Homo sapiens: one gene and its partners. The protein of the gene in region 1 purifies or fractionates together with the protein of each later gene. This does not show direct contact. Each region holds a gene or a part of one and is shown in the gene's direction. Other genes may lie near its edges.

Region 1 (6,628 bases):
TGCTCCTAAGGCAGGGAGGGGGCTGCCTTCACTATGGGTGCTCAGGAAATCTGCCAGGGGAAGGGAGATGTGGGCCTGCCTCGGCTGCAGAAACCCCTCAGAGGAGGAGGAGGGGCTTGAACTGAGCTTTGAAGAAAGTGTAGACTTGGGGACAGGCAGAGGAAGAGGGGGCATCATAGGCAGCAGAAACCACATGGACAAACTCTCTGCCGGAGAATGGGCATGGCCGGGCTGAGGGGTCCCTGGACAGGAACCAGCCTTCCCTATGCACCTGCACCCGTGAGTCTCACAACAGCCCCAACAGGCAAGTGTTATTTTCCTCAATTCTACCAATTAAAAACTGACCTTGGGCAACTGCTTAACCTATCTCTGCCTTACTTTCTTCATCTGTATCTACCTCAGAAAGTTACTATGAGGACTGAATAAGCTCATACATATACAATGCTTGGAGCAGAGGCTGGTACTAGAGCTGGCTTCATGGGCATGAAACCTGTGAACACAGAACCCCATGCTTTCATTTTCCACTTAGTCCTGCCTGGCATAGTATGCAGTTTTTTTAATTTGAGATGGAGTCTCCCTTTGTTGCCCAGGCTTGAGTGCAGTGGCGCGATCTCAGCTCACTGCAACCTCCACCTCCCAGGTTGAAGCAGTTCTCCTGCCTCAGCCTCCTGAGTAGCTGGGATTACAGGTGCGCGCCACCATACCCAGCTAATTTTTGTATTTTTAGTAGAGATGAGGTTTTGCCATTTTGGCCAGCCTGGTCTTGAACCTCTGACTTCCATGATCCACCTGCCTCTGCCTCCCAAAGTGCTGGGAGGATTACAGGCATGAACCACTACGCCTGGCCTGGTATGTGGGTTAAAATGTTAGGTTTTATCATTATCTTAGGTGGAGAATAACAAATCCGATTCAATATATTCATTTTAGAAACGAGGAAACTGAAGCTTAGATAGTTTGTGTGACTTGCAAAAAGTCACGCAGCAAACAAGCTGCAGAATGAAGGGTGGAGATGGAGAGATAGAATTCTCATCTTAGAGGTGAAAGTAGGATAATGACCCAGCTGAGCTTGCTGAGTCCTGCGAGCGTCGCACGCCCCCAGAGACAACATAAGGAGAGAAGTGCAGACAGATTCCTTTGAAGGAGCTTAGAGAAAGAGATGGTAGGGAAAAGAGCATGAACAGTTGTAGAGGTAGGAGGAAAGCTGGCTATTTGGGGAAGCAAAGAAAAGATTCTCAGAGTAAAACGTATTGGTGAAGCCATGGAAACAAGGACTGAGAAAGTCTCTTGGATCTTGGCCACAAAAAGGTTATAGATGAGCTTAGAGAAATGAATTTCAGTAGAGTTAGGGCTAGAAGCCAGGTTCAGAGAGAGAAAACGAGAGAGCATTCCTGGTGGTGGAGATGGCCGCAGGCCATTATTTAAAAAGCTAGGATAAGAAAATAGAGAAGAAAGGGAAGGAAGCTATTTGAAGGGAGTGGGAGAAAAGCCAGATCTCAGTTGGGACGTGGAGGAAGGACCACCAGAGGCAGTAATTTAGCCGGAAAGAGGTGTATTTCTTTCCTTGAGTTTATAGGGGGTAAAGAGGATGGGGCTGAGATACTAAAGACTACGAGGACAACTGTTCATTGAGGGCTGGTCATCTCCCCAGCTGCACTGTGGGGTTCCCAAGTCAGACATCCCAGAGGCAATATAGCAGCGTGGACAAGAGCTTACTCGTTGGAGTCAGACCGCCTAGGTTCAACGATGGGTTAGTTAGCCCTTCAGTGCCTCCATTTTCCTATCTAGAAAATGTGGATAACAATGGTTGTTGTGAAGATTAACAGCCATAATCCACGTAAAGCCCTCAGTACAGTGTATGACACACAGCAAGTGTCCACCAAAGGGTAGTTATTATTAACCATAATCCTGGTTCTCTTGTGAGCTGCCTCCTGTGTGTCTAGCATTGGCCAGCACACATGAGGGGGTCCAGTGTTTGCTGCTTAACTAAGTAGCTTCTCAGGAAGTGTGGTCATAAAAAATGATAGGTGATTTAGAAGGTGAGACAGACACAAGGGATGTGTTGCACAGTAAATGCTCCCAGACATGCAATAAATGCTTATAAGCATGCCCTCTGTAATCAGCCCTCTTTAGAGAGTTTCCCTGCCTCATTGCTCTTGGTCTTTGGCAATGGCTACACCCACTGCCCAAGCAAGCAGTATCAGCTGTCAGCTGTCCCCTTGTCTTTTGGATCAGATTCCTTTACAGGGATCTTCCCATTGTTATAAGCTTCAAGAATTGGAGAATGCTTAATGAACACTTCCAAATTCTTCATAGCTATGAGGGGCCAGTGCAAAGGGCGGAAGGAGTTCTTCTGTGTCACAGAAATTAGAGCTGGAGCAGATCCAGCTTGCTATCCCCCCTTCCCCCAGCTTGTGGGTTATTGCAGAATTGTTCACAAAAATTCCCATTGCCTTGGAATTTGTCCAAGCCGAGGGCAGGGATCACAACACAACCTCTCAAGGGAAAAAAGGAAGGCCTGTTGCTTGAGATGGCTCAGAGCACTTTTGGTAGCCAGCCAAGGCAGCTATCACTCATGAAATCTGCCTTCCCCTCCAGCAAAAAGCCAACTGTATAGAACACCACATATAGAGCGCTAAGAATAGCACAGCGCTCCAAGAACATAGTGCACTTGGCCTGCATACAAGTGTGCAGGGCTTAACGAGTCTTTTTACTCTGAAAGCTGGGTGGGTTGGAACAAACAAACAGAAAAATATTTTCCCCAAGTAGCATGCAGAGAGGAAATGAGAGCAAGCACAAGAGAGCACCCTGGCATAGCATTCTCTGACCTGGGCTGCCTTTTCAGGGTATGAGTTGATTCCGCAGGCACCAAGGCATGCCTGTAAGCCCTACAGGGCAGACGCCCTCACCCCAATCATTGGCTTAACATTCACACCAGGCTGAGTAAGCCCCAAAAGTCCTGCCATTGGCTCTGACAGGAATTGAAACCCATCTTCTCCACAATAAATATTTGATTGACAGATTGGCTTCCTTCCTATAAGTATAGAAAGCGAGGGCAGGTTCCATCCAAAGCCGCAGTTCTGGGTGATGAGAGCTCTGAGAGCCCAGAAAAGACCCTGAACCACATCCCACTGTTTGTTGGAAGAAGAAACTCATTTGTGGGTCTGTTCATAAAAGAGTCTGGGAAGATAGTCTCCTTAACAGTGTCTGGATGTAACAGACTATGGGCGGCTTTTACTTTATAACTTTCTATATTGTCTGAAATACAGAATATTAAATATTGAGTTAATATTATATTTACTCAATGTTACTTTTTTTTTTTTTGAGACAGGGTCTTGCTCTATTGCCCAGGCTGGAGTGCAGTGGTGTGGCTCACTGCAGCCTTGAACTCCCAGGCTCAAGCAATCCTCCCACCTCAGCATCCCAAGTAGCTGGGACTGTAGGCGCAGGCCACCATGCGCAACTATTTATTTTCTTTCTTTTTGTAGAAATGGGCTCTGCCTGTGTTGCTCTAGCTAGTCTCAAGCTCCTGGCCTCAAGCAATCCTTCCGCCTTGGCCTCTCAAATTGCTGGGATTACAAGCATAAGCCAATGTGCCTGGCCTCAATGTTACTTTTATGATCAGAAAAACGGCCATCTTATTTGGAAATTATTTTCCTATTCTCAAGTGGGCAAATAGGAGAAGGTTTCAGGCATTTGTTTTGTCTCTGGGAGGGAAGGCACAATGAGGTGGAGTGGACAAATTGCTGAGGCCTTTATGGACAAAGATTCTAAGAAGAACAGGCTTTGGCCATCTCTGGATATTCCCATTCTGCTCCCTGCCACCAGAGAGCAAATGTCGTAGGTCACCACACATCACCAGTCTCTTGCCTAGCTAACCGTAACTCATTCTTTAGTTCTCCTTGAAGGTGTCACTTCTTCCAGGAAGCCATTTCTGTCCCTCCCGAGATGGAGTCCCATGTCCCTACCATTTGCTTCCAGGGCACCTTCTCACAGCACTGCATCATGGTTATCTGCTTATCTGCTGGACACCCCTACTCGACTGAGGTCCTTGAAGGAAGAGAGAGTGTATCACTCATCTGCATAGCCTTTGTAACTTAGTAAAAGTGCCTGACATGCTCACTAAACATTTACTGAGTAATTATTTATTTGGGGGCCTTTTACGATCAGAACAATGTGAAGGACACAAAGATGAAAAAGAAACCATCTGCTTCAAGGTACTTACAACTGAAATGTATCAAACAATTACCCAGAAAGTCAAGCACCAACTTAAGTGCTAAAATAGGGGTCCAAGCAACCAACTTTGAAGATTAGGAAGGTTTTAGATTCTGAATGTTTCTCATTCATTGTGTTTTTGAGTTCAGAATCCCCATACTGGAAGGCTAATATGGGGTATGTGCATACAATTTTAAGGACTCACGTTCTTACAACCTATATTAGAATTTGACGCACGATCTTTCTTCTGTCCTTCTTGCAGTTGCCCTAGGAATACATGCCACTTACTCTTAATTGACGTTTATGAAATACCTTGGCTTCATTTGCTGAAAGGCTCTAAGTGTTGAGCATTGTTACTATGTTACAATGGTTGTTTTATTATTAAAGCAGTGCCAAGGAGGTTACACAACAGCTTGGATCAGGAAGTGAAACAAGGGCGGTGATCCCACTGAAGCTACAGGGGATGGGGATTTGGGACGGTAAAATGTTAATTACCCAAGATGGAATGTGGGCTAGAGTCCAGCGTTGTGCTCCTGGAGATCATTTCGGTCGCAAAAGCTCACTGGCAATGGGTCCTAAGCGTCCTGCCCTCCTCTGGCTGAAATGTTGGATTCACTTCGATGAATGCTGCTATAGGGAAAGAACCCAGTGGCCACCAGCCAGGAGCACACGTCTTGCTCAGCATCAACTATCCTGGAAGATTTCCAGGAGCTGAAGGGCTGTTCTCTTTGCATGCAATAAATTATTCATTTCTAAGACGATTTATTCTGTCTCTCTCTTTAGACTTGATTTCTCCTAGTTTTCCAGCTCTTGAGGACTCTCTCCAAAGAATGAGTTGTAGATGGTTGGTCAGGGGTTGCGAGTGGTGCCTAGGCTTCGCATAAAAGGAGGCAGAAATGTCTACCTTAAAGGGGAGAGGAATGGGTCCTGGGGAGGAAGATGTGGTGGAGGCAATGACAACCTTTCCATAGTAAGTCCCCAACAAAGTCACTTCTAGAAACTGACTGAAGACTTTGAGTTCCAAATGAAACGTTTTTAAGATGCTAGGTTGGCTGACAAGTACATCGTCTAAGGTGGAGGCACTAAAGCATAATAAAAAGAGTGAAGTCTCTGCAGTTTGACCCAGGACCAGATGCCAGGCCCACCAACGACTCTGTATCTGGATGACCTTGGGCAAGTTTTCTAAGCTCTCGCCAGCCTTAATTTCCCATCTATAAAAACTGGATACTGCATTACTCCCAGGTTTAACCAGATAATGTTTGTGAAGAAAGCAGCCCAATACTTGGCACAAAATAGGCAAGGGAGTCACTATTATCGTCAACTACTGGCCAAACAACCAGAGTTGACCCCAAATCCCCAGTAAACAATTAACCGTAGCAGAGCGAATCCGGATCTGACGCACCTATTTGCCCAATAAGGTGCCAGGAAATAACACAGTGGAGTCAAACCAATGGTATTAGCCCTTGTTGATGGACGGGCTTTCTTGCTGTTCCACCAATAGCTTGAAGATTTGACTGGGGAGTGACATCCTGACAGTCCAATGACGCACAACCAGCCCACACTCAGCACTTCGGAGGGGATAAATCAAGGAGCCGGCACGTATGGATTCCGTTATAGGGCAGTACTGGTTGGAGAGAGGAGCTTAGGGAAACAGCGCCGAGGCAAGGCACTAATGAGCTAAAAATAAAGAAAAAAGACGATGGTTGCGCCAAGCGACCTCGGCCGCCATCATGCTCTAATTTCCCCTGAGTCTCTCTGGGTCCTCGACCGAGGAAGCGGCCTCTGGGATGCTGAGGGGGTGTGTCCCCACATGATTGGCTCAGGCAGCTCAGCCAATCCTAGCTCGTTAAACGGGAAGCACTTAACCAATGAGGGGCGAAGGCAGCAACGAGGAATTGGAGGGGCGGAACGACAGCTTGACGGGCACAAAAGCCAGCCAGTGAGAGCCGGAAGCATCCTCCCTGCGGCCAATGGAGTGGGGCTCTGGGCGGGCCCCCGAGTGTTTGTGTTGTGGTTTTGGGGGAGGGATGCGGAGGGGAAAGTTTGTTTATTTTGTTTTTAGTTTTTGGGGTCCCCGTGCTGCTGCAAGGCGAAACGGGAGGGAGTGACCCCTGCGCCCCTCAGTCCCCCCTACGACGTCGCCTCCATAGTCTGCGGAGAAGCGGAGACTGCGCGCCTCGCCTCACAGCGAAACGCCGCGCACTCGGAGCCGGCACGGCTCGGCGGTGAGTGAGGTGCGGCGGCCGCGCCGTCCTTCCCCTCCCCCGCGCCCCGCCGGGACGGAGCGGGGCGGCCGGGGGTCGGCGAGGGCGCCCCCGGGGGCGCGCGGCGCGGCCCGGGGCGGTGAGCGGAGGCGCGGCGTGTGCGTGTCCTCGCGAGGGAGCGCGCGTGGGGCGGGGAGCGGGCCGGGGAGGGG
Region 2 (6,047 bases), on another chromosome or scaffold:
ACAGGGGCCACCTTGGAGGCTGGCTTCCACAGTATTTCCCAGGAATTTATTTTTTGTTTCTGTCTCCCTCGGTCAGTCTCAAAAGTACTTAATGGTTGGAGTGTTGATGTGTAGTGCCGGCTAGCATGCTCCCATTCCATCTTCAGAGGTGACTTTCCCTTAGGCACTACTTTGATTATATTGTTAGTCCTCTATCTAAATCTCATTTTACTTCTTATTGGCTACATCATAATTTACTGCAGAACTTATCCTGTGTTTAGTGCTTTATATGTATTAACTAATTTAATTATTTTAACAGTCCTGTGAGGTAGATACCATTAGTCTCATTTTATGGATGAGGAAACTGAGGCTCAGCAGAGAGGCTAAGTAATTTGCCTAAGGTCACACAGCAGTTAAGGGAAGAAGCTAGGATTTGTATCCAGGTAGTCTGCCCCAGACCTTGCTTTTGTTCAGGCTCTCAGCCTGTTATTCACAGCCTCCATAATATCTGTGTCTTATTCCTTTACAGCTTTGCTCATTATTTATCTTATAGGTAAACTAGACTACTGCGTCACTGTACTTGCTTGCCCCTTGGTGGTAATTGCGTATGTTCTTGGTTTGGAATAATGCCAGTTCTCCCATTTCTGCTGATTGAAACCTTTTTTTTTTGAGACGCAGTCTCGCTCTGTCGCCCAGGCTGGAGTGCAGTGGCGCGATCTCGGTACAGGCGCCAGCCTCCACACCGGGCTAATTTTTTTTAAATTTTTATTAGAGACAGGGTTTCACCGTGTTAGCCAGGATGGTCTCGATCTCCTGACGTCGTGATCCGCCCGCCTCGGCCTCCCAAAGTGCTGGGATTACAGGCGTGAGCCACTGCGCCCGGCCATGAAATCTTAATCATCCATTGAGGCCTACTTCAAATCCCACCTTCTCCCAAATTATCCCAGCTATAAATGAACTTTCTTCTGTATGTTCTTGGTTTGGAATAATGCCAGTTCTCCCATTTCTGCTGATTGGAATCTTAGTCATCCATTGAGGCCCACCCCAAATTTCACCTCCCAAATTATCCCAGCTGTAAATGAACTTTCTTCTGTAGTCTGTGGAATTTTATGTAAATAACTCTTACTATTCCATGTCTTACATTAGGTTTATTTGTGTCTACACCTTTATTCCCTTATATTCTAGACATTTAAGATTAGGGACTATTTCTTCAGCCCATATTCCCCAGAATACCTGTCATATCCCTTGTATGTACTAGATATCTGATGAATTAATGAAAGGAGAACTAGTTTAGAAGATTTGCAAGTATTCCAGGTGTGAAGAAACAGGAGGAAATACCCTAGTCCGAAGACTCGGATATCTGCCTCAGCAGTACAGCTGAATGATTTTGCAGTTTTGGACAAGCCACACAGATATATCACGACTCTTAAGATGAAAGGTGGTGTGGTTATGGACTAAGGTGGTGGAATTAGGAATAGAATAGAAAGGACTGGGTTGACAGACTACAAATGGAAGGTGAGATTTAGGCAACTGCAATTGAAAGAGGAAGAGGAGGAAACCCATGGTGATTCAGAAAGTCGAACCTATGAGAAGTGAGAAAGTTGTTTGCCTCTTAACTGATGTTAGGATATATAGATATATCCTATATATCACATATATAGATATGTGGTATTTAAGTCCCAGGGAGATTAGGGCAGTCAGTTGCTCAAAGGCTGGGGTATCTTAGTTCTTTCCTCACTCCCCTCTCCTCCATGAGTTTCTCCTGCCCTAGCCCCTCACTATCCCTTAACATGCTGTGATTCTTCCCTTTGTGCCTTGTGTTCTCCCTTTCCTTATGAAGTAGCCAAGGACGACCACATATACTCCTGTTCTTGGGCAGCAGCTTGCCTTTTGAGATTTTCTTTTTTTTTTTTTGAGATGGAGTCTTGCTCAGCCACCCAGGCTGGAGTGCAGTGGCCCGATCTCGGCTCACTGCAACCACTGTCTCCTGGGTTCAAGTTCTCTGAATAGGGCAATATACCTAACATTGAGTTGTCGTTTCTTTATAAAATGGGGTTAATACCTATATTGCTGGGTTGATGTGAGGATTAAATTATGAGAATGCATGCGATGATATACCGAGCATATAAACACTCAATAAATGTTGGTGATAATGAAAGCAATTAATAATGAAACACCATGATAATTAAAGAAATCATATGAGGACAAAGATATTGTACATCCTCTACTGCTTTGTCTCTAGATTTCCCTGGAATTGCTGTCTTTCAGCTTCTTGAACAAGAAATAGGAAAAAGGCTCATTTTCAAGTTTTTCAGTGATGGCAGGAAATTCTCATAGTTATCTTGGTAGGAGTACCTCATGGTTCCAGTTTAAGGCCTTGATAGTCTCATTGAATGATTTACTGGTGGCTCTACATCTCAGAATTAGACTACTTAGTATTGACATCTCAGTTGTCTTTTTTTTTTTTTTTTTTTTTGAGACAGTCTTACTCTGTCGCCCAGGCTGGGGTGCAGGGGTGCTATCATGGCTCACTGCAGTCTTGAGCTCCTGGGCTCAAGTGATCCTCCCATTTCGGCCTCCTGAGTAGCTGGGACCACAGGCCATGCCACTGTGCCTGGCTAATATTTAAATTTATTTTGTAGAGATAGAGTCTTGCTGTGTTGCCGAGGCTGGTCTCGAATTCCTGACCTCAAGCCGTTCTTTCTCCTTGGCCTCCCAAAGTGCTGGGGTTACAGCGTGAACCACTGTGCCTGGCCTAGAGGTTGTCTTATTCCTCAAACCAAAGGGAAAGAGAGGAAAGAGAGCTTTTATTGAAAGCTTTCTATATGTCAAGCACTTTGCATAGAGTACCTCATTTAAGGGAAAACATGTTTTCTTTTTAGTCAAAATAATACATGTTCATAGGTAAGGTAAAATAGTACAAAAAAAGTTTGTTGTAAAACTCAGCAGTCCCTTGCACATCTCATTCCATTTATTTTTATTGAGATAACTGTAAATTCACAGACAATTGTGAGTAATATAGAGAATAATTGTTTTATAAACTAAATCTGGAGGCTGGGCCTTGCTAGATCAAAGTGTTGACAGATTTCATGTCTGGTGAGGGCCTGCTTTCTGGTTCACAGACAGCCATATTCTTACCATGTCTTTATATGGTGGAAGAGGTAAAGGAGCTCTCCAAGGTCTCTTTTATAAGGGCATCAATCCCGTAACTTCTAATCACCTGCCAAAGGCCCCACCTCCTAATACCATCAGGTGATCTGCCCGCATCGACATCCCAAAGTGCTGGGATGACAGGCGTGAGCCACCATGCCCGGTCTGAAGTTTTTTTTTTTTTAATACAACATAAAACTCTCATGATTTATCGAAGTTGTTGTGCATATCAGTAGTTTCTTTGTCTTTTTTTTTTTTTTTTTTGAGTTGGAGTCTCACTCTCTTGCCCAGGCTGGAGTGCAATAGCGCGATCTCGGCTCACTGCAACTTTCCGCCTCCCCAGTTCAAACAATTCTCCTGCGTCAGCCTCCCAAGTAGCTGGTACTACAGGCACCTGCTGCCATGCCTGGCTAATCTTTTGTATTTTAGTAGAGACAGGGTTTCACCGTGTTGCCCAGGCTGGTCTTGAACTCCTGAGCTCAGGCAATGCAATCCACCCACCTCGGCCTCTCAAAGTGTTAGGATTACAGGCATGAGCCACTGTGCCTGGCCAATAGTTTCTTTGTTTTAATTGCTGAGTAGTGTTCCATATAATGGATATACCAGAGTTTGGATTAACATTTATTATTGAAGGACCTCTAGGCTGTTTTCAGGTTTTGGTTATTGCAAATAAAACTGCTATAAACATTTGTGTACAGGTTTTTGTGTGAACATAAGTTTTCATTTCTCTGAGATAAATGCCTAAGTATGTAATTGCCAGAACCTATGGTAATTTGATGTTTAACTCTATAAGAAACTGACAAACTTTTCCAAAGTGGTTATATCTGTATAATTTTGCAGTCCCATTGGCAATGTTGTTATTCAGTTTTATAGATAATAAAATCTACCCTTTTAAAGTGGAAAATCCAGTGGTTTCTAGTATATTTACAGAGTTGTACAAATGTTCCTAATTGTAGAATATTTTCATGACCCCAAAAAGAAACCCCATAGCTATTACTAGTCAGTCACTCCCCATTCTCTCTTCCCTCATCCATTGGCAACCACTAAGCTACTTTCGGTGTGTATGGATTTGCCTATTCTGGACATTTCATATAAAGTGTGGTCATTTTGTGACTGGCTTCTTTCATTAAAAATAATGTTTTCCAGGTTTATACATGTTGTTGCATGTATCAGTACTTCATTCCTATTTATTTTGAATAAATTTTTTATTGCATGGACATACTGCATTTGAAAAATCCATTTATTAGTTGATAGACATTTGGATTATTTCCACCTTTGGGCTGTTAAGAATAATGTTGCTTTGAACTTTTTTTTTTAATTGAGATCCGGTCTCATTATATTGCCCAGGCTGGTCTCAAACTCCTGGCTGGGCTCAAGAGATCCTCCCATCTCAGCTTCTCAAGGTGTTGGGATTACATCCGTGAGCCATCGCACCTGGCCTGCGTTGAACATTTGTATATGCATTTTTATGTAGACCTAAGTTTTTCTTTCTCTAGCAGTGGAATTTTTGGGTCACATAATAACTGTATGTTTACATTTTGGATAACTGTTAGAATTTTCCAAAGTGGTTGCACCTTTTACAGTCTCACCAGCAAGGAATGAACATTCTAATTTTGCCACATTCTTGCTAACACTTGCCATTGCCTGTCTTTTACTTTTAGTCATCCTAATGGTTATGAAGTGTTACCTCACTGTGATTTGGTTTGCAGTTCCCTAATGAGATTGAGCATCTTTTCATGTACTTATTGGGCATTTCTGTATCTTCTTGAAGAAATGTTTATTCAGCTTATTTGGCTGCGTTTTCATTGGGTTATTTGCTGTTTTATTGTGGAATCACGAGTTCTTTAAAATTCTGTATACTGTTCCCCTATAAGATGTATGATTGCAGATATTTTCTCTCATTCTTTGGGTTTTCTTTTCATTTTCTTATTGAAGTACAAATGTTTTTAATAATTTTGATGAGGTCCAATTTGTTTTTTCTTTTGTTTCTTGTGCTTTTCGGTGTCATGTCTAATAAATCATTGCCTAAACCAAGGTCACAAAGATTTATTCCTATGTTTTCTTCCAAGAGTTACAGTTTTAGCTCTTACATTTAGGTCTGTGATTCATTTGGAGTTAATTTTTCTACACACTGTGAGGTAGGGGTACAACTTCATTCTTTTCGATGTGGATACCCAGTTGTTTCAACACTGTTTGTTGAAAAAATTGTTCTTTCTCCTTGAATTGTCTTGGCACTTTTTTGTTTTAATTGAAAATCAGTTGACCATAAAAGTAAAGGTTTGTTTCTGGTCTATGAATTCTATTCCACTGATCTCCATGTCTGCCTTTATTCTAGTACCATACTGTTTTAATTACTGTAACTTGGCAGTGTTGAAATTAGAAGTGTGAGTTTCTGACTTGTTTTCTGTTTTGAGATTTTTTTAACTGTTTTGGGTTCATTACATTTCCATATGAATAATAGCAGCTTGTCAATTTCTGCAGAAAGCCATCTGGGATTTTGATTTTGTTGAATATATAGACAAATTGGAGAGTATTATCATCTTAACAATATTATTTCCCATGAGCATGGGTTGTCTTTTCATTTATTTAGATCTTCTTTAATTTCTATCTATGTTTTACAGTTTTCAGTGAAAAAGTCCTGCACTTCTTTGGTTAAATTTATTCCTAAGAGTTTTATTCTTTTTGATGCTATTTTGAATGCAGTTCTACTGGCACATGCTGCTGCACGTGGCTAATATTTTTTGTTAATTTTTTGGTAGAGATGGAGTCTCGCTGTGTTGCCCAGGCTGGTCTCAAATTCCTGGGCTCAAGGGATGCTCCTGTTTTGGCCTCCCAAAGCTCTGGGATTATAGGCATGAGCCAGCCGCACCCAGCTCCATTGATTTTTTTAAATATTGAGATTGTATCCTGCAACTTTG
Region 3 (4,204 bases), on another chromosome or scaffold:
AACCTTGTCTGGATGCTTTAATGGGGCCGTTGTCCACTCTTGAGGTCAGCGAGGGGCTTCTCTGAGCCCTCTCTGCTCCCATTCCCTGGGGTCTGGTGCCCTCCATCACTAAAGGGGTGGGGGGCACAGCTGCCTGGGGTCGGGTGGGCTATGGGCCCCGGGGTTTGTGGGAGAAAGTTGCTGATCAGCAAGGGTGTTACTCTATTGTTATACCAAAACAGGGCACTGGAGCAAACGCTTGTTAAAATGCCAGTCCCATGGGCGGGGCTGGCACCGTGCCCCCTCCCTCCTCAGCAGACACCGGAGCCGGCCTACCCCACCTCTCCAGCGTTCCCACCACTTTCTTGTCCGTTTGCTTCCAGGGTCGTGTATCAGGATGGATTTTATGGTGCTGAGATTTATGTAAGTGTAGCCCCGCCGGGAGGGAGGGTGGGATCAGGCGTTCTGTGGGTCTCAATGAGAAGTCGGCGTCTCCTCTCTCACTGCCCGCTCCTCCCATCCCATCCCATCCCACCCTTGAAGCCAGGAGGGCGAGGGTGCCACGTCTGCCCAGAGTATGGCATCCCTGAGAATCCCAGCATGGCACAGTTTGGTTGTTGGTACCCATCAAGGGAGCAGTTAATGGGCCGCCCAGCAGCCCTGTGAGCTGAAACCATCTTCCTGTGGGCAAGGCCTCATATAATGGGGGCAGTGGGACTCTGCCACGTCCCTAACCACGCTGCGGTCAGTGAGTGAGCCCCTAAGGCACCCACAGCACGGGCTGCAAGAGGGGCCAGGAGGCAGGGCCCCTGGGTGCCTGTGCTCCAGGGCCTACCCCCCTTGATGGGGTCCGGTGGCCTTTCTCCCCCTTCATGGGGCCACATGTGCTGCTTCCTCTGTCTCAGACTCACTGACGGCCACACCCCATGTACCCAGCCACCCTTCAGTCCTGGGCAGCTGCCTACAATTCAGTTACCTGCCCATTTGAGGCCAGGACATCATCTGAGCTCACGTCCTCTTGTGCCCTTTACCCTTGACCCTTCCTGGTGTCCAGGACACTATCCAGAGTCACTGTGGGTTCTCCCAGCCCCTCAGCATCCAAGTCAGGCCTCAGTGGCCTGGTGGCAGGTCTGTGAGCACCTCTTCCTTGCCAAGGCCTAGCACCCAGCCAGATGAGTCATGGGTACCCGCTAATGTGTGTGGAGTGCACAGATGGATGTGTGAATGAATGAGTGAATGAATGGAGTGGACAGGCAGACCTGCCTCGCCCTGAACTGTGCCACCTAGCCATCTGCAGTCCTCGGTCCTGTGTTAGACCAGAACTAGGTGCCCAGGCCAGGTACCACCTAATCCTTACCCAGCCGAGGCTGGGAGGCTGGGAAGGTCTGTAGTCCCTCCCAGGGCCCCACCCGCACAGGGTCTGTCTCCTCTCCCCACTCAGCCTTTCCCTGGGGAGCCCCACTAAGTCCCTCTGCTCTCTCTCCTCCCACTTACCCTGCAGGGAGGCTACGCAGCCTACAGATACGCTCAGCCCGCTGCAGCGGCGGCAGCCTACAGCGACAGGTGAGGCCGGGGGCCAGCACTGTTCTGGAGCAGGGTGGGGAGAAGATGGACAAGGATCCCTGGGGAGCTGGGCCCAGACAGGCAGGAGGCGTAACCCACTCTTCCAGGCCTGGCGGGAGTAGGGTCGGGACAGGGGAGCAGGTCTGAGTGTGGCCCTTGAGCCAGTGAGCCCCTGACTTCAGTCACTTCCTGCTTACCCCATGGGGAGGCTGTGGAAACCCCAGGTGGAGACCGCATCTCTGATTCCCAGTCCCCCCACCGCCCCCCGCAAGCCCCGTGCCCACAGTGGCTGTCTGTCTTGGAGGCAGACGCTTGAGTGCTTCCTCCTGGAGCAACCTAGCCTAGTGCCTTTCCCCTCAGACATCTGGCCTGTTGGTAGCTGAGCTCCACCACTCTGGTCTGGGGACCGCTTGTACCCCCTCCCTCCTGGCAGCCCCGGCTCCATCTCCCTGAAGTGTGGTGTACAGGGTGCCGTGGCCCAGCTCTGCTCTCTAAGGAGCTGAGAGTTCCCTGCACAGACAAACTGCTGAAGGGAAAGTCGTGAGGGACACAAGTGTCACATTCTTGGGGGCAGTGTTCCTGGTCCCTCCTCGTTGACCCTCTCTCTTCTCTTGAAACCCTCCCCAGTATTTACCACATTCTTTTTGGGGTGGAAGTTTGTTTTCCCTGCAGACGAGCTCCATGAGGACACCATCCCCCTCCACGTAGCACTGAGTGGAACACACCCCCTCCCCCCACCCCGTCAGGGTCAGCACACTGTGGGCATATTGAGAGGGTTGCCTGTTGTGTTCCAGAAGCTTCCTTCTTAACAAGAAGGAGGGGTAGGCCTTGCAGGCCTTGCAGGAGGGGAGGGTGCCTTGCAGATGGGACCTCGGTACAGGGTGCCCATGTAGTGTCTGGGAGGAGGTGGGAGGCCGTTGCTGCCCCTCACCTGCCCCCCTCCCCCACCCTCCTCCCACTCCCCCTCCCACGCTCTTCCCTAGTTACGGCAGAGTCTACGCAGCTGCCGACCCGTACCATCACACCATCGGGCCCGCGGCGACCTACAGCATTGGAACCATGGTAAGGAGCCCAGGCCCGCCCAGCCCTGGGTGCCAGTCCTAACAGCTGGGCATGGGTGGTGAGGCCCTTGGGGGAGAGGCCGAGCCCTCTGACCAATGCCTTGGTCCCGGAGACTTTGGAAGGACCACGGCCTGGATGTGAGTTAGGGTGAGGGGAGGGCTGGCCCCTCACGCCCTCTCAGTTGCGGGGAAGCAGGTTGAATGGCTGGTCAGCCCACCGTACCATCTGGTCCTCTGGAAAGCACCCCAATGTGCCTGATCCGTTTCCCTGAGCTCCCTCACTATAATAAAGTCCCGTTGAGGCCCCTCCATTCCCATTTCCACCAGGAAAACCTCAGAAACCAAACCAGGGCCGCCTCTCCTTCCCAGCAGAGGCTCCCAAGGCCCCGGGGCTGTTTCTGCCCACACCGCATACCCACGGCCCACCCGCACTGCTGCAGCCCCCTCGCATCGCATCCGAGAGGGGAGTGTGGGTTACCGGTTGCTTCTCACCAGGCTCTAGCTCCTGGCTTCCTGGGGGCTCCTGGCGTCCTGGGGAAACAGTGCCTGCTCTGCCCCAGCCTCCTCCCTCAGGCTGTGGGGTGGAAGGGGCGGGGCGGGGAGGTGCGCGGCGTGGCGTGTCTCTGTGTGTGTGTGTGTGTGTGTGTGTGTGTGTGTGTGGCCAGCTGTTGACACGTGCAGCCCAGCTCACTCTGCACCCAGAGCTGCTTCCAGCAGACACCTGCCTCCTGTACCCACTGGCCCCAGCCCCGGGGTGTGAACACGGGTTTTAGCTAGCTTGGCATCCAGCATCAAAGATGAAAACATCTTGGGAGAGTGAGGAGGGAGGAGGTTCAGAGGCAATATGGATTTTTCCCATCTTTCTTGGTTTTGATGACTCCCTCCAATTTTTTTTTTTTTTTTCAATTTTTAACGAGCCTCAGACACCCCCAGCAGCCTGTGGTGGCTGTGGGCAGCCACAGGCGCGGGTCTGGTGCGGCCCCACCCGGATGGAGGTGTGATACCCTGGCTCTTGGGCCCTCCGTGCAGCTGCAAGCTAAAAGCTTTCATTAACGCACGGAGGGTTCCCTCTTGTGTTTTCACTTTGTATTTTTAAGATTTTCTATTTTTCCCCAATTTTTCTTCTCTTGCACTTGCTGTGTTGTTCTTTTCTGGGAAAACTGGGTGGTGGGAGGGTGGGAGGCCCCTTCAGAGCCTTCCCTGACTGGAGGCAGCCCAGGACATGGGAGAGCTGGAGCATCCAGGACCCGCTCTCCCCAGTAGGACAGGGCTGGGCCTCAGGTGGGCCCAGGAGGACCCAGAGACCCCCCCAGAGAGCAAGGCTCTGAACACTATGCCCAGCAGGCTTGCCTCTCCCAGCGTAGCTGGCTTCAGTGGCCCCAGGCTCTTGAGCCAAGGCCCAGGAACCCGCCAGGAGGTCCCTCAGTGCTCTGAAGATGCCCCGTGCCACCCTGCTGGGGTGCGAGGAGGTGGGGCTCAAGCTGGGACCCCCCCTCTGCATAAGGACAGTGAGAGGCCAGGCCTGAGCCCAGAGAAGTGACCCAGACATAACTCAAGCTGTGACCTAGAAGCACTGTTGGCCATGACCCCAGAGCACCCCA
Region 4 (6,549 bases), on another chromosome or scaffold:
AGTAATGCACTTACGGGCTTACCACAGATCAAGAGCTGGGATGTTTTCCACATACCATATCTAATTTATAATTCTCACAACAATCTTAGATTATAAATAATTTTGATCTCATTCTGTGAGAAAATTACTCCAAACTTTATGTCTAAATGTATCTTCCACCACTCACAACCATGTGATGCCCATGGCCAAATCAGGTAATTGATTTGCGTGGTTCTGGAACTTGCTTTTAGCCTTTACTCTGCTCTTTCAGCATCTAATCACATGTCAATTTCATTCTCCTGACAAGTTTGCTCATCAGTCGGGACCCAACTCAAATTCTAATAGTTCTGTGAAATTCTGTCCACATTCCTCACCCACCTTCTAGGCTCCTTAAGGGGTGAGATCAATTTTATCTATTTTTCCATCCCATTAAGGATGGAAAGGTCTTACATAGCATAATACCTTTAATAGATTCTCCCTCTCCACGTCTATTTTCTGATCTTTTGTTTGCTTTTAATAATGAACACTCGAGTAGATATATCCTTCTTTCTTTGTGATTTCACTTGACTTAGCATGAGTGCATATCTTAATAAAATTAGACTTCCTATGGGCCTCATTTAACTCCAAATATTCTTGATATTTTTAACAATAGGATAAGTGCATCTCAAAACGTTCATAAGTATTGCACCTTTAAGAGACATTCAGAATTATTCTCAAAGGCTGTAGAAACACGCCAGTATATTAAGTACCACATAGAGAATATTAATTTAGTCAATGGATTGCATGCCAAAAATGAGGAAGAGAACTGAAAAAATATTAAAAAGTGAGATGTGAAAATTAGGAACAGAAGGAAAAAATAAATACATAAAACAAGACAATTCTCTACATTCTTTTGAAGAAATGAAACTACAAACCAGACACCAAGATCTGGAAGATTAGCTTTGTACTAATCCTGGAATTTGCTTTTACTTTCCTGTCTTTGGCCTTTGCTCTGATGTTTCAGTATCTAGACTAATGCGAATTTCATTCTTCAGTTTAAATCAGCACGTCAGTCAGGGATTCATCCAAACCTTAATGGCTTAGCATTTTCCTCAACTGTTTTATTTGGAGCAAAATCGCCACGAAAGTCATTTTTAAGGGTCAATTCAATTTTATGATAATTTATATATTATGCCAGACGCTTAAAATATGCCTATTACTACCCTAAATTCCATTCTTACAGTACTAGGCTGCATTTTAGACATTTGCTGCAAATGACTTTATCTTGAAGTCTACGTGATTACACAAATTATTATAAATACTCATGACAGATTTACTGAGGTGTAGGCAAGGAAATTAAAAAATAAATTTTATTAATTACTGTATTTTATGTTTAAATTATAGTGTCTCCACTTCCGTAACATTGCTCCGCAGTATCCCACCTAGAGGGACCTGCTTTCACGCACATCTCCCTATTTTAAACAATATCCTTTCATCCCAAATCTGTAACTAGGACAGTTGAGAGTCAGTACCAAAATCTTTGATGATATTTGAAATTCTTTTACATAAAAAAGTAAAGGCACAAGCACTTTTTCTTCTACTTTTCCACTCCCCACGTCCTCTCCAAGCCTAAAGACTCTTAGGCACTGAGAAGGAGTCTGCACTGCGGGATGCCCACTGGAATTACCTACTGTGGGCTGAATCCGCCCCACACTCTCGAAGGTGCTACAACCCTTGCTCTCACCCGCGGCCCCCAGGCCTCTCCTCCAGGCATTCTTGAGCCCAGGGAAAAGCGAGGACGGGACCACGGCCCCGCTCGGCCTAGATCCGCCTTCTTCCCAGGTGAGCGTCGCTGTCCTCCGGGATCGCTCCTCGCCCCAGACCAGGAGCAGGGTGTCGGGACTTGTAATTGCCCCGTAGCCCCGAGGGCGGGCAGGAAAGAAAGGCTTTTTCATACTCCGCTGGGAGAGAGCAGGGTGTTTGAGTTCAGACAGGTTCCGAGCGCTTTCTGGCTGTTCGGGGTTTGGCGTGCCACCACTTGGGACTTGTTGTAACCCGTCTCCACTCCCGCCCCCTCCAGCGCTGCACCTTGTCTCGGGGAGGCGCGGTTCGAGCCGGAATCAGCCTCCCTCCGCGGACCTGACGCTGGGCAGGTAACTCCCCTCCCCTCCCTGCCCGCGCCCAGGCGCTTGCTGCTTCCTGGGAGGCAAACCTTCGGCGGCCGGCGCTGTGCGGCGGGCGCGGTTGCGCGCGGCTTGGGGCAAGTAAGTGGGGTTTGGGCTCCCTTGCCCCGGACCTCGGCGGACGGGACCCCAGCGGGTGCAGGGTTGAGGTGCTTGGGGTACTGGGGGGGCCCGGGGCTTCACCCGCCCCTGGCCGGCGCGGCGGACGGGAGGGATAGGGGACTCTCCCTTGGGAGCGCAGGCGGGATTGGAAATTCCACAGGGTGTAAAGCTCAGTTGCTTCAGTCTTTTCTACGTTTCTTTCATTGTCGTGGGGGTTCGAGTGAGTTGAGAAGTTTGAAAAGTTGTCTCGGGCGGAGTCGGTTTGGGTCCCCAGAGGACTGGCGCCGCCCCTCGTGGAGGCTGCATTTGTTTCCTCTTTTCCAGTGTAGGAGTGCGCCGAGGACCCCGGGAGGGGAAGCGGGAGGAGAGACCGCTGGGAAAAGTCTCGTGGGAGGAAGTCCAGGGTGGAAGCAGAGGGCATGGGGGTGGGGGGTTCCGGGAAAAGGTGGGAGAGCTTAGGTCGCTGAGGGGCGTGGGTGTTCTTTAGATCCTGAGTGGGGAGCAGAACTTGAAAAGACAGTTTTTTCACACAACCTCTTAATTGTACAGGATCCCGTTTCTGAGTGCAGACTGGTAGCGACCTGTGTTTTTCATACTTGGGTCGGCCTGAGTCTGGGTCTGTGTGCCCTAGCAGCTCTCCAGGAGAGCCTGTACCTACCAAAGTTTGAGAACCACTGCTCTAGATCCTGGTGAGTGATCTAGAAGAGGAGAGTAGGCCTAGAGCAGATTGCTCCTGGAACGGGACTTGGAGACTTTTGGCCTATTCTGTGTGATATGTGGGGAGACTTACCTGTGTAAGGTTAATGGACAGGCAGAGAATGCCTGTGTTCATTGCAGGAGTCATAGGTATGTAAAGAGACAACAGCGCTTTCTTTATAGGAGGAGGCTGGGAGGTTATGGAAACACAGGTTAGCATGTTGTCTATGCTCGGAGCGGTGAAGTTATAGGGTCTCTCTGACCTAGAAGTGGAAATGAGAGCTCAGGCGGCCAGAACACTTAAGAAGAAGGTGTGCGGGTGGCAAGCAATTGAGGCTAGAATTTAATGCTCAACAGCTTATGTCCAAATTCCCAGTTACAAACATCTTGCTAGGTTACTGGCAGGCACCTCCCTTCTTTCCCTTTCTCATCCTAACAAGTGCAAGAGCCCCGAGGAAATCCATGACTGAGGCTGAATCATTGCTGACAAGCAACAGGAAGGGAGAGAGTGATGAAAGAGACTTAGAAGAGAAAACTGGGGTTTTTTGTTTTTTATTGGAGTGGGGGTGGGGGTGGCGGTGGGAGGCTCAAAATGATTGGAGAATGAGAATAATGTGAAACAGAATGATGGAAGGTTGGGAGTGCAGGTCTTTGTTGCGTTTGTTTCTCTCTGTCTTCCTATAGTTCCCAGAAAAGTAGAAGTCCCCACACCTTCCAATTGCAAATTCCACCCCCTTGCCTTTGGGGCTCAGGCACACGTGGGGTATACACCTATTTAGGGTGCTGGCTACACCCTCTAGAGCCTGCCTAAGGGGCTGGGTGGATCCTGCCTTTAAAGCTGGCAGGCTTTAGACCGCAGATGCTGAGAATTTATTGTGGGAAGCATTACCAGTTGAACAGTTGCTGAAAGAGATTGTATAGATGGAGACAAACCACACCTCTGGTGCTGACTCAGTGATGTCTTTTACGTTTATGCCCTTGAGTTTATGACGCTAACTGGCTAAACTTTTTTGGGATGAAGTAATTAATTTTATTAATCTTTCTATTTTATTTCCTCTACCGTCCACCGTTCTTTATAGGTTAAGGTGGAGGTTCATTCACTGAGTATTTTCTTGACCATGACTCACCTTGCAGCAACTAACCTACTTGTTTCCCATTTAATTACATTATACAATACTGAGTTGCCAAAATGTAATGTTATTATACTTTTAAGTGTCCAGAATCTTGGGGTGAAACTGTTATCCCATCAAAGCGGGACTCTTCTAATACATAAATCTGGTTGGAGGAGACCTTTTGAAAAGAGGCCACTTAGCTTAATTTAATGAATTATTGGTAAAATTTCAAGTTGTCCTTGTTTATCTAGTTAGGTAAGTTTGCACGTCTGTCCCTTTATAAGTTGCAAAATGTGAATGTCCCATGGATGTTTCACAATTCACCTTTTTAAACACAATGTTTTGTTCATTTTGAAATGTGCTTTTGTTCCTTTAATTTCTGATCTGGAGATGGAATGTATTTTAGAATTTTGTTGTTGAATTTATCATCTGAACATCAGAATACATCCGCTCCCCCATGGAAACAGAGTTCTAAATGATGGTTATTCACAGCCCAGCTTTAAGGATGCCGTAGATAAAAAGTTGTACAAATAGCACTTAAACTCCATCAAGAATCAAAGCCAACAACATTTCTCTGAGAAAATGTGTTAGAGCCTTCAGTGGGAGCTTCCTTCCCACTGAGGTGTGCCAATGGGCATGGGCACTGTCTAGAAGTATCCTGGCCCCTAAGGGTAGAGCAGGCTTCCCAAGGGGATTGGGAGGCTGAGTGCTGTGGGCTCCTGAGACAAGAGCTGGGGGAAATGGTAGGCTCCAGTGGAAAGGATATACGTGGAGGTGAGGTGGAGTGGGGGGCAAGTGGGCTGTATGCTGGGGAGGAGGGTGCACTAAGGAGGCAGGGGGCTAACATGTACAGAAGGTAGGGGTGGGTGATGGAGGGGGCAAAGGATGTTTTCAGGGGCTGTGATGCTGTAAGGAAGGTGAGCCTTGGTGGAGAGATGATCCAAATATGAGAGATATTCATTGGGCATGCTGTCTATGTTGGGAAGTCCTGGAATCACATGATCATGAACGGTAGGAAACTTTTCCTCTGGGGACATCTAATTACTACCCAGTTTGTCTTTTGTTTTATTTTTACATTGTCCTTAAGAGTGGGGTGAGAAGTCCCCTAAGGGCACATGACATTTATCTTTTCAGCTGTGTCTTAAATAATTTGTAGATTACTGGTCCATGGGAAACTTAAATTAGTCATGGTCAGCCTCTCTTGCATACTGACATAGAGTCAGGTGTAGTCTCCCGGTTACTGGCAGGGGCCTATGTTGAAGAGTTTATAGAGAAGTTATGCAGTGATGATGATTATCTAATGGCTCTAACTTTGTGCTCTTTTACACTATCCCTTTGATTAAACATATTTATTGACCATTATCTGCCAAGCAATATGTTCCTCTCCAGGGGTAGGAAAGTAAAAATATATTCCTGGATCTTAGGAAGCTTCCAGTTTAGGAACCTAATGATAATTATAAGTACACAAATAAATAAATGGATCAAGTCCACTGATTTTTGTAGTTCCTTCCTATTCTCTGAAGGTCACAGCAGACGTTGTTTGTGTTCATTAATCATTTGTGAAATTGAACATTAGCAGCCCTGGGATAGTCATGTTTTTTGACAAAGTATTAACATTCTTTAGGCTTGCAGGTTTTTCACTGGTATTGTGAAAGGTTTAGACTATGTGGTCACTCCTGTGTCCCACCCACACTGCTCTGAAATTCTCTGTGATCACTTCTTATTGAGAGTATCATAAAATAATGTTAACTAAGGTTTCCCCACAGTATCACTGTGAAGCTTATTATTTCCACTTCTTTGGCCAAATTTTCATTTCAAAAGGTTTTCGTTCTTTAACATCAGATTCCTTCTTTGATTACATAAACATTACTACTTGGAGAAGAAAAGGCAGTTTTCAAAGCACTAAAGAGTGTCATCTTCCATCTCAATGGTGGTAATAGAATAACTCAACATAAGATGTTTGGGCTGTCATTTATATATACACACTGGCAATGATGGCTTTAATTCTTAACAGCATGTTACTCCAAATACCTAGTCTCATAAGACTCATTCAACAGATGTTTTAAAAGTACTATATTTTAACGGCTGGAAATAGTGGCTCACACGTGTAATCCCAGCACTTTGGGAGGCTGAGGCGGGTGGATCACAAGGTCAGGAGTTTAAGACCAGCCTGGCCAAGGTGGTGAAACGCCGTCTCTACTAAAAATACAAAAATTGGCCAGGCGTGGTGGCGGGTGCCTGTAATCCCAGCTACTTGGGAGGCTGAGGCAGAGAATTTTTTGAACCTGGGAGGCAGAGCTTGCAGTGAGCCCAGGTCGCGCCACTGCACTCCAGCCTGGGTGACAGAGTGAGACTCATCTCAAAAAAAAAAAAAAAAAAAAAAGTGCTGTATTTTTCTCAAATGTAACTTCTGACTTATTTGTTTAAAGATGAGTGCAATATAGCTAAGTTGTTTTTAGAGTAAGTAACTGTTTACAGTGTTCCCCTGTGATTCTTTT
Region 5 (6,047 bases), on another chromosome or scaffold:
AAACTTAGAGTCAAATCATTAAAAAGACTGGTATTAACTTTTAACAAAATTACCACAAATTCAATAGAAGTTGCCAGCTAAAAACTGAGAAAGTTTAGCTTAAGCACAATTGAGACAAAGTCCCAACACATTTCCATATGTTTTTCCTTTTTTTGTTTTCATATGAGGTTATAGATTCTAGCTGTGACAGTTACAGGCAAAACTTCTTTGCAGTGAATACCTCCACACAAAGCCTGGTTGAGTAAAACAAAATTATTCCCAAGGCTTATGATGGGCCTGTGGCCATGGGGATTTTTTGACCTGCTAACAAGGAATTAGCCATGAATAATTGAGAAATTATTAAATTTATGAGAAATTGTCATTGAATTATTAAATTCAAATTAAACATATAATTATTAAAATGGAAATGCAAATAAAATTGAGGTTCTTAAGTTTTTTAAATCACTGCAAATATATAAAAAATGTTTAAAGTGCCCATGCCTCTGGACTGTGAGTCCAAGTCTCTATCCATGGCACTATACTACTTCTCATGTTCAGCAATTTCTTCTTCTTTATGTTTTAAATTACATGTTCCATAAAAATAAGAAATCACTGTGATACGGTAATTGATTTTTTCATTTTAAATGCAGCTGTTTGCCACGGAAGCCACATCAGACTGGCTCAACGCCAACAATGTCCCTGCCACCCCAGTGGCATGGCCGTCTCAAGAAGGACAGAATCCCAGCCTCTCTTCCATCAGAAAGTAAGAACTAGGCATACTGTTTTCTGAAATAATTTAGAGGATTAACTTTGAGAACCAGTATATGAATATTTCACCTTACTTGATTGCAAGTCTTTTAAAACAAATTTAAAAATGAATACATTTGTGGATGATTGTCAAGTTTCACTCTCCATCACTATGGAATACATAACGTCATGTGTACATGGTGATATGAAACGTGTTTCAAAATACTTCTTAGTAAGGATACTTTCCTTGACGGAAACAAGTGAGAGCATGAAGAATGTAATGCAGCACTTTATATTTCATGTCAAACTTATATTGTGTATAGATAAGTACATCGAGTATAAGATGACCAGCTATATTTCACTAAGGTTGTGCATAATAAATCAATTTGTTGAGCACTTACTACATACAGGAACCTATGTTGAGTACTATGATGATGTCATCCATTGGATTACCTAATTGGTCATTCCTTGACCAGGTTTTCATGCCTTAGACCATGTCATCATTAGATTTTGTACGACATTTTATTTCAGCAGATTGTGTGAATCTTCAGGAATACCATTGCATCAACCCTTAAAGATCTATGTGGCATAAGTACATAGGAGATAATTCTCTGCTGTTTTAAGATAGTGCAGCCTACAGAATGGCTGTGCCATTCTATGCAATATGTTATTTGTTAGCGTTCTTGAGAAACCAACACATAAATTATTATCACTTTAATAAAATAATGGCATTGTGTTCAAACCTTAGCAGGCCTCCAAGGATGTAATAGCTCCGTGTTTGGGGCATTGTAAAACAATAATTAGCACTACTAAGGAGGCAATAGAGTTAATGTGGGAGTGGGAACATGGGGGTGAAAGGGCATTCAATGGTGGAGGGATCACCTCTTTTTAAAAAATAAGTATCTATCAAATTACCAATTCTTAATGAGTGAACAGATAGCATTTTAAAGAGAAAACAAACATCTGCATTCCATTAGACTTGCACTAGAATTCCTTCAAGAACACAATATAATCCCTATATAAGTGTAATTTAAACATCTACTTAGCAATAGAGGAGGGCAGATGGCAGTCAACTCAGCATGGCATTGACTTGAATGGCTAAGAGAGCAATTTATGTTAGTATTTTATAAACTAACTATAAAATATGCCTTGTTGTCTATAAGTTTTTGTTTATTTTTCCAGATTGATTAGAGATGGCAGCATTGACCTAGTGATTAACCTTCCCAACAACAACACTAAATTTGTCCATGATAATTATGTGATTCGGAGGACAGCTGTTGATAGTGGAATCCCTCTCCTCACTAATTTTCAGGTATAGTCTTTTCCTTGGATATAGACTGGATGGGAGTTTTATTTCTGTGCCTCCCTTAAGAGTGTAATCAGTAGATGCACATCTCTCTTTTCCCCTCTTTGTAACTTTCAGAATAGAGAGGAATTTTTAATAATCTAAAATAATGATGCTAACATGGTAGGTCATGGCTTAAATGGGACAGTTGGTGATCAAGCAATTGAGATAATCAAAGGCCATGAATGGCCATGGCTCTCTCCTTACAATTATCCTTTGAATAAAAAGTGACAGCATGACATGGAATAAAGATACAAACTTTTATTTCATTGTTTCTAAATGAAAGCCACCATATAAAAGCAACAGGTTAATGATGGTCCAGATGTAGCACAAGTGCTTGTTCAATTCACAGAAAATGATTGCATGAGGCATGTTCAGTTTCACTTGGACATGACCCATCGAATTTATCACAGGGAGAAACAGAGTGGAGACTCATTAACTTTCTGCCTATCATATTTATTTTTTATGCAGAATCAGTTTTAATCCCTATGGGAGGAGAAATAAGCGTATTCACAGTGACATCTGAGATATAAAAGAAAGTCCCCATGGTGAGGTCTGAGACATGGGAGAAAGTCTCCATTACATAAAAAACTTTTATGCCTTTTATCCCATACCCCTTTGAAAACTGGGGACAGACACTTGTGACTTTTGTCTTCATTCATTAAAAATTCACTTTTATCTCATGGAGGGTGCTGATTCCTACCATTATATTTTCAGGTGACCAAACTTTTTGCTGAAGCTGTGCAGAAATCTCGCAAGGTGGACTCCAAGAGTCTTTTCCACTACAGGCAGTACAGTGCTGGAAAAGCAGCATAGAGATGCAGACACCCCAGCCCCATTATTAAATCAACCTGAGCCACATGTTATCTAAAGGAACTGATTCACAACTTTCTCAGAGATGAATATTGATAACTAAACTTCATTTCAGTTTACTTTGTTATGCCTTAATATTCTGTGTCTTTTGCAATTAAATTGTCAGTCACTTCTTCAAAACCTTACAGTCCTTCCTAAGTTACTCTTCATGAGATTTCATCCATTTACTAATACTGTATTTTTGGTGGACTAGGCTTGCCTATGTGCTTATGTGTAGCTTTTTACTTTTTATGGTGCTGATTAATGGTGATCAAGGTAGGAAAAGTTGCTGTTCTATTTTCTGAACTCTTTCTATACTTTAAGATACTCTATTTTTAAAACACTATCTGCAAACTCAGGACACTTTAACAGGGCAGAATACTCTAAAAACTTGATAAAATTAAATATAGATTTAATTTATGAACCTTCCATCATGATGTTTGTGTATTGCTTCTTTTTGGATCCTCATTCTCACCCATTTGGCTAATCCAGGAATATTGTTATCCCTTCCCATTATATTGAAGTTGAGAAATGTGACAGAGGCATTTAGAGTATGGACTTTTCTTTTCTTTTTCTTTTTCTTTTTTTCTTTTTGAGATGGAGTCACACTCTCCAGGCTGGAGTGCAGTGGCACAATCTCGGCTCACTGCAATTTCCGTCTCCCAAGTTCAAGCGATTCTCCTGCTTTAGACTATGGATTTCTTTAAGGAATACTGGTTTGCAGTTTTGTTTTCTGGACTATATCAGCAGATGGTAGACAGTGTTTATGTAGATGTGTTGTTGTTTTTATCATTGGATTTTAACTTGGCCCGAGTGAAATAATCAGATTTTTGTCATTCACACTCTCCCCCAGTTTTGGAATAACTTGGAAGTAAGGTTCATTCCCTTAAGACGATGGATTCTGTTGAACTATGGGGTCCCACACTGCACTATTAATTCCACCCACTGTAAGGGCAAGGACACCATTCCTTCTACATATAAGAAAAAAGTCTCTCCCCAAGGGCAGCCTTTGTTACTTTTAAATATTTTCTGTTATTACAAGTGCTCTAATTGTGAACTTTTAAATAAAATACTATTAAGAGGTAATGCAGTTGAATCTGGTTTTATTTTATGTTGCTGTACAAAAATCAGTTTACTTCTATGATAAAATAGGGTTTTGGGCCAGGATTGCATTGCTTATTTATTTTTTCCATGCAAACCCATATAGGGATGAGAAAATTAATGTTAAAAATAAGTTTTAGCTGTCACATTTTTCATTTTTTCTTGTCCCTCCCTTGCTTTTAAGTCTCATCATAACATTATGTGGTTATATGGCTATAAACCATCTTTGATCTGGATCCTTTCTAATGTATAACTACAACCACAAACTGATTAAAGATTGCCACAAATATATAGTAAACTTTCAAACAAATGTCTTGCATAACTCAGAAAAGTAACTTAACCCAATCAGAGGCTGACCAGCATTGTCTGATGGAAATAGTGCCAATGAGCACACTGATGCCATATCCCCAATTTACCACCGAAACTATGGCTTTGTGAAGGTCCTAAGATAATTATGCTATAACAGCTTTTATTTCTTCCTTGTTACCTCACAGTCAATTGATTACCACTTTGTATAGCTCTAGACGAATGCTTAAAGTAATTCATCTTCTCTCCCCCTCACTTCCTTGTTCTTCCTGTGGTCAAGACTTTCATTACTTCTTCCCTGTAATCTTTTTTTTTTTTTTTTTTTTTTTTTGAGACGGAGTTTTGCTCTTGTCACCCAGGCTGGAGTGCAGTGGCGCGATCTCAGCTCACTGCAACCTCCATCTCCTGGGTTCCAGCGATTCTCCTGCCTCAGCCTCCTGAGTAGCTGAGATTACAGGTGCCCGCCAACAAGCCTGGCTAATATTTTGTATTTTTAGTAGAGACGGGGTTTCGCCATGTTGGGCAGGCTGGTCCCCTATAATCATATAATTATGTAATCCCTGATCACTTTGATTCATTCACCTGAAAATATTTAATGAGTTTCTTCCATGTTTCATGTAGAATATATCACAATCTCTCCTACTATTATTCTAGCATGTTTCTGTTACATATCACCAGCACCACAACCACCATCACCATAATAATTAACATTATGGAGTCCATACTATTTTTCAGGCATTTGTAAGTACTTTACATGAGTTAACCTAGTTAATCCACAAAATATCCCTGTGAGTAGGTGCTGTTATCTCCATACTATAAATAAGAAAACTTAGGCATACCAAAGTTAAGTAACATGCTCAAGGTCACACGAAATGGAGTCTCACTTTTCTGTATCATATTCTGGTGAAGGTAGGCATGTAAAAAGAAATCATTTCTCACAGTAAAGAAAATAATTTGCCTGCAGAGATCAGGGAAGGGCATTTTAAGGAGATGGATTCATGTGTTGCCTTGAATAAGATCTTGCAGTTGCCAAGGAAGACTAGAAGGTAAGGACATTTAGGAAAATGACAATGACGTTGTTATGACTGGAGCTCAGGGTATGTGTGGAGGGAAAGGGCTAGTAGCAGAAGTTGAGACTGGACTCTTAATGGTGGATGTTTAAACTAGGTAGAAGTTTTAAAACTTTTTATTTGGAAATAATTTTGGATTTAAATTTTAAAAGTAAAAAAATCCCCAGATCTACCTATTGGTAATATTTTACTTCATTTGCTTTATTCTACTCTTATCATCTATTTCTCTATCTAAACACACTTGACACACATACATATTCACAGAGGAAGATAAAAATTACATGTTGACTAAAAGTGAGCAGGCTGTTAGTGACCAATTTAGATATGTAACTCAATGTTTTAAATAAACAATTGTTTGCTGAAACTGTCAAAAACTCAATTAGTTAATCATTGTATTGTGAGAATTTAATAAAGGGTCCTAATTTTTATATTAATGTGAGCCGGCTATTTGTAAGATATGGTAAAATTTGAAGATTAATAATAATTAATTTAACATTGTGTCTATATAAACTCTGTTTTTTGTTGACAAAAGGGCTTTGGAAAACCAGAAGACAGGATAGACCTCATGGTGCTGAAAATGGAATTACATTAATTTTTGTTTTGGTTGCCTTTCTGTTTTCCAACATTCCAAACTTTAAAAAGACTTA

Evidence for each region.
Region 2: the proteins of FAM83F (region 1) and SPIDR purify together in Homo sapiens (affinity purification with mass spectrometry; one large-scale study listed by BioGRID and IntAct). This does not show direct contact.
Region 3: the proteins of FAM83F (region 1) and RBFOX3 purify together in Homo sapiens (affinity purification with mass spectrometry; one large-scale study listed by BioGRID and IntAct). This does not show direct contact.
Region 4: the proteins of FAM83F (region 1) and FAM83B purify together in Homo sapiens (affinity purification with mass spectrometry; one large-scale study listed by BioGRID and IntAct). This does not show direct contact.
Region 5: the proteins of FAM83F (region 1) and CPS1 purify together in Homo sapiens (affinity purification with mass spectrometry; one large-scale study listed by BioGRID and IntAct). This does not show direct contact.

Annotation. Positions count from the first base shown.
Region 1 is NC_000022.11:40,038,562-40,045,189, forward strand, and holds the end of FAM83F (protein FAM83F), read left to right. Parts: 3' UTR 1-4,973; downstream 4,974-6,628.
Region 2 is NC_000008.11:47,262,755-47,268,801, forward strand, and holds part of SPIDR (DNA repair-scaffolding protein), read left to right. Parts: intron 1-6,047. UniProt on the Homo sapiens protein: Plays a role in DNA double-strand break (DBS) repair via homologous recombination (HR).
Region 3 is NC_000017.11:79,092,851-79,097,054, reverse strand, and holds part of RBFOX3 (RNA binding protein fox-1 homolog 3), read left to right. Parts: intron 1-221; coding exon 222-402; intron 403-1,480; coding exon 1,481-1,542; intron 1,543-2,525; coding exon 2,526-2,604; intron 2,605-4,204. UniProt on the Homo sapiens protein: Pre-mRNA alternative splicing regulator. Regulates alternative splicing of RBFOX2 to enhance the production of mRNA species that are targeted for nonsense-mediated decay (NMD).
Region 4 is NC_000006.12:54,844,605-54,851,153, forward strand, and holds the start of FAM83B (protein FAM83B), read left to right. Parts: upstream 1-2,166; 5' UTR 2,167-2,222; intron 2,223-4,964; exon of another isoform or gene 4,965-5,062; intron 5,063-6,549. UniProt on the Homo sapiens protein: Probable proto-oncogene that functions in the epidermal growth factor receptor/EGFR signaling pathway. Activates both the EGFR itself and downstream RAS/MAPK and PI3K/AKT/TOR signaling cascades.
Region 5 is NC_000002.12:210,675,099-210,681,145, forward strand, and holds the end of CPS1 (carbamoyl-phosphate synthase [ammonia], mitochondrial isoform b precursor), read left to right. Parts: intron 1-629; coding exon 630-742; intron 743-1,908; coding exon 1,909-2,038; intron 2,039-2,788; coding exon 2,789-2,887; 3' UTR 2,888-4,009; downstream 4,010-6,047. UniProt on the Homo sapiens protein: Involved in the urea cycle of ureotelic animals where the enzyme plays an important role in removing excess ammonia from the cell.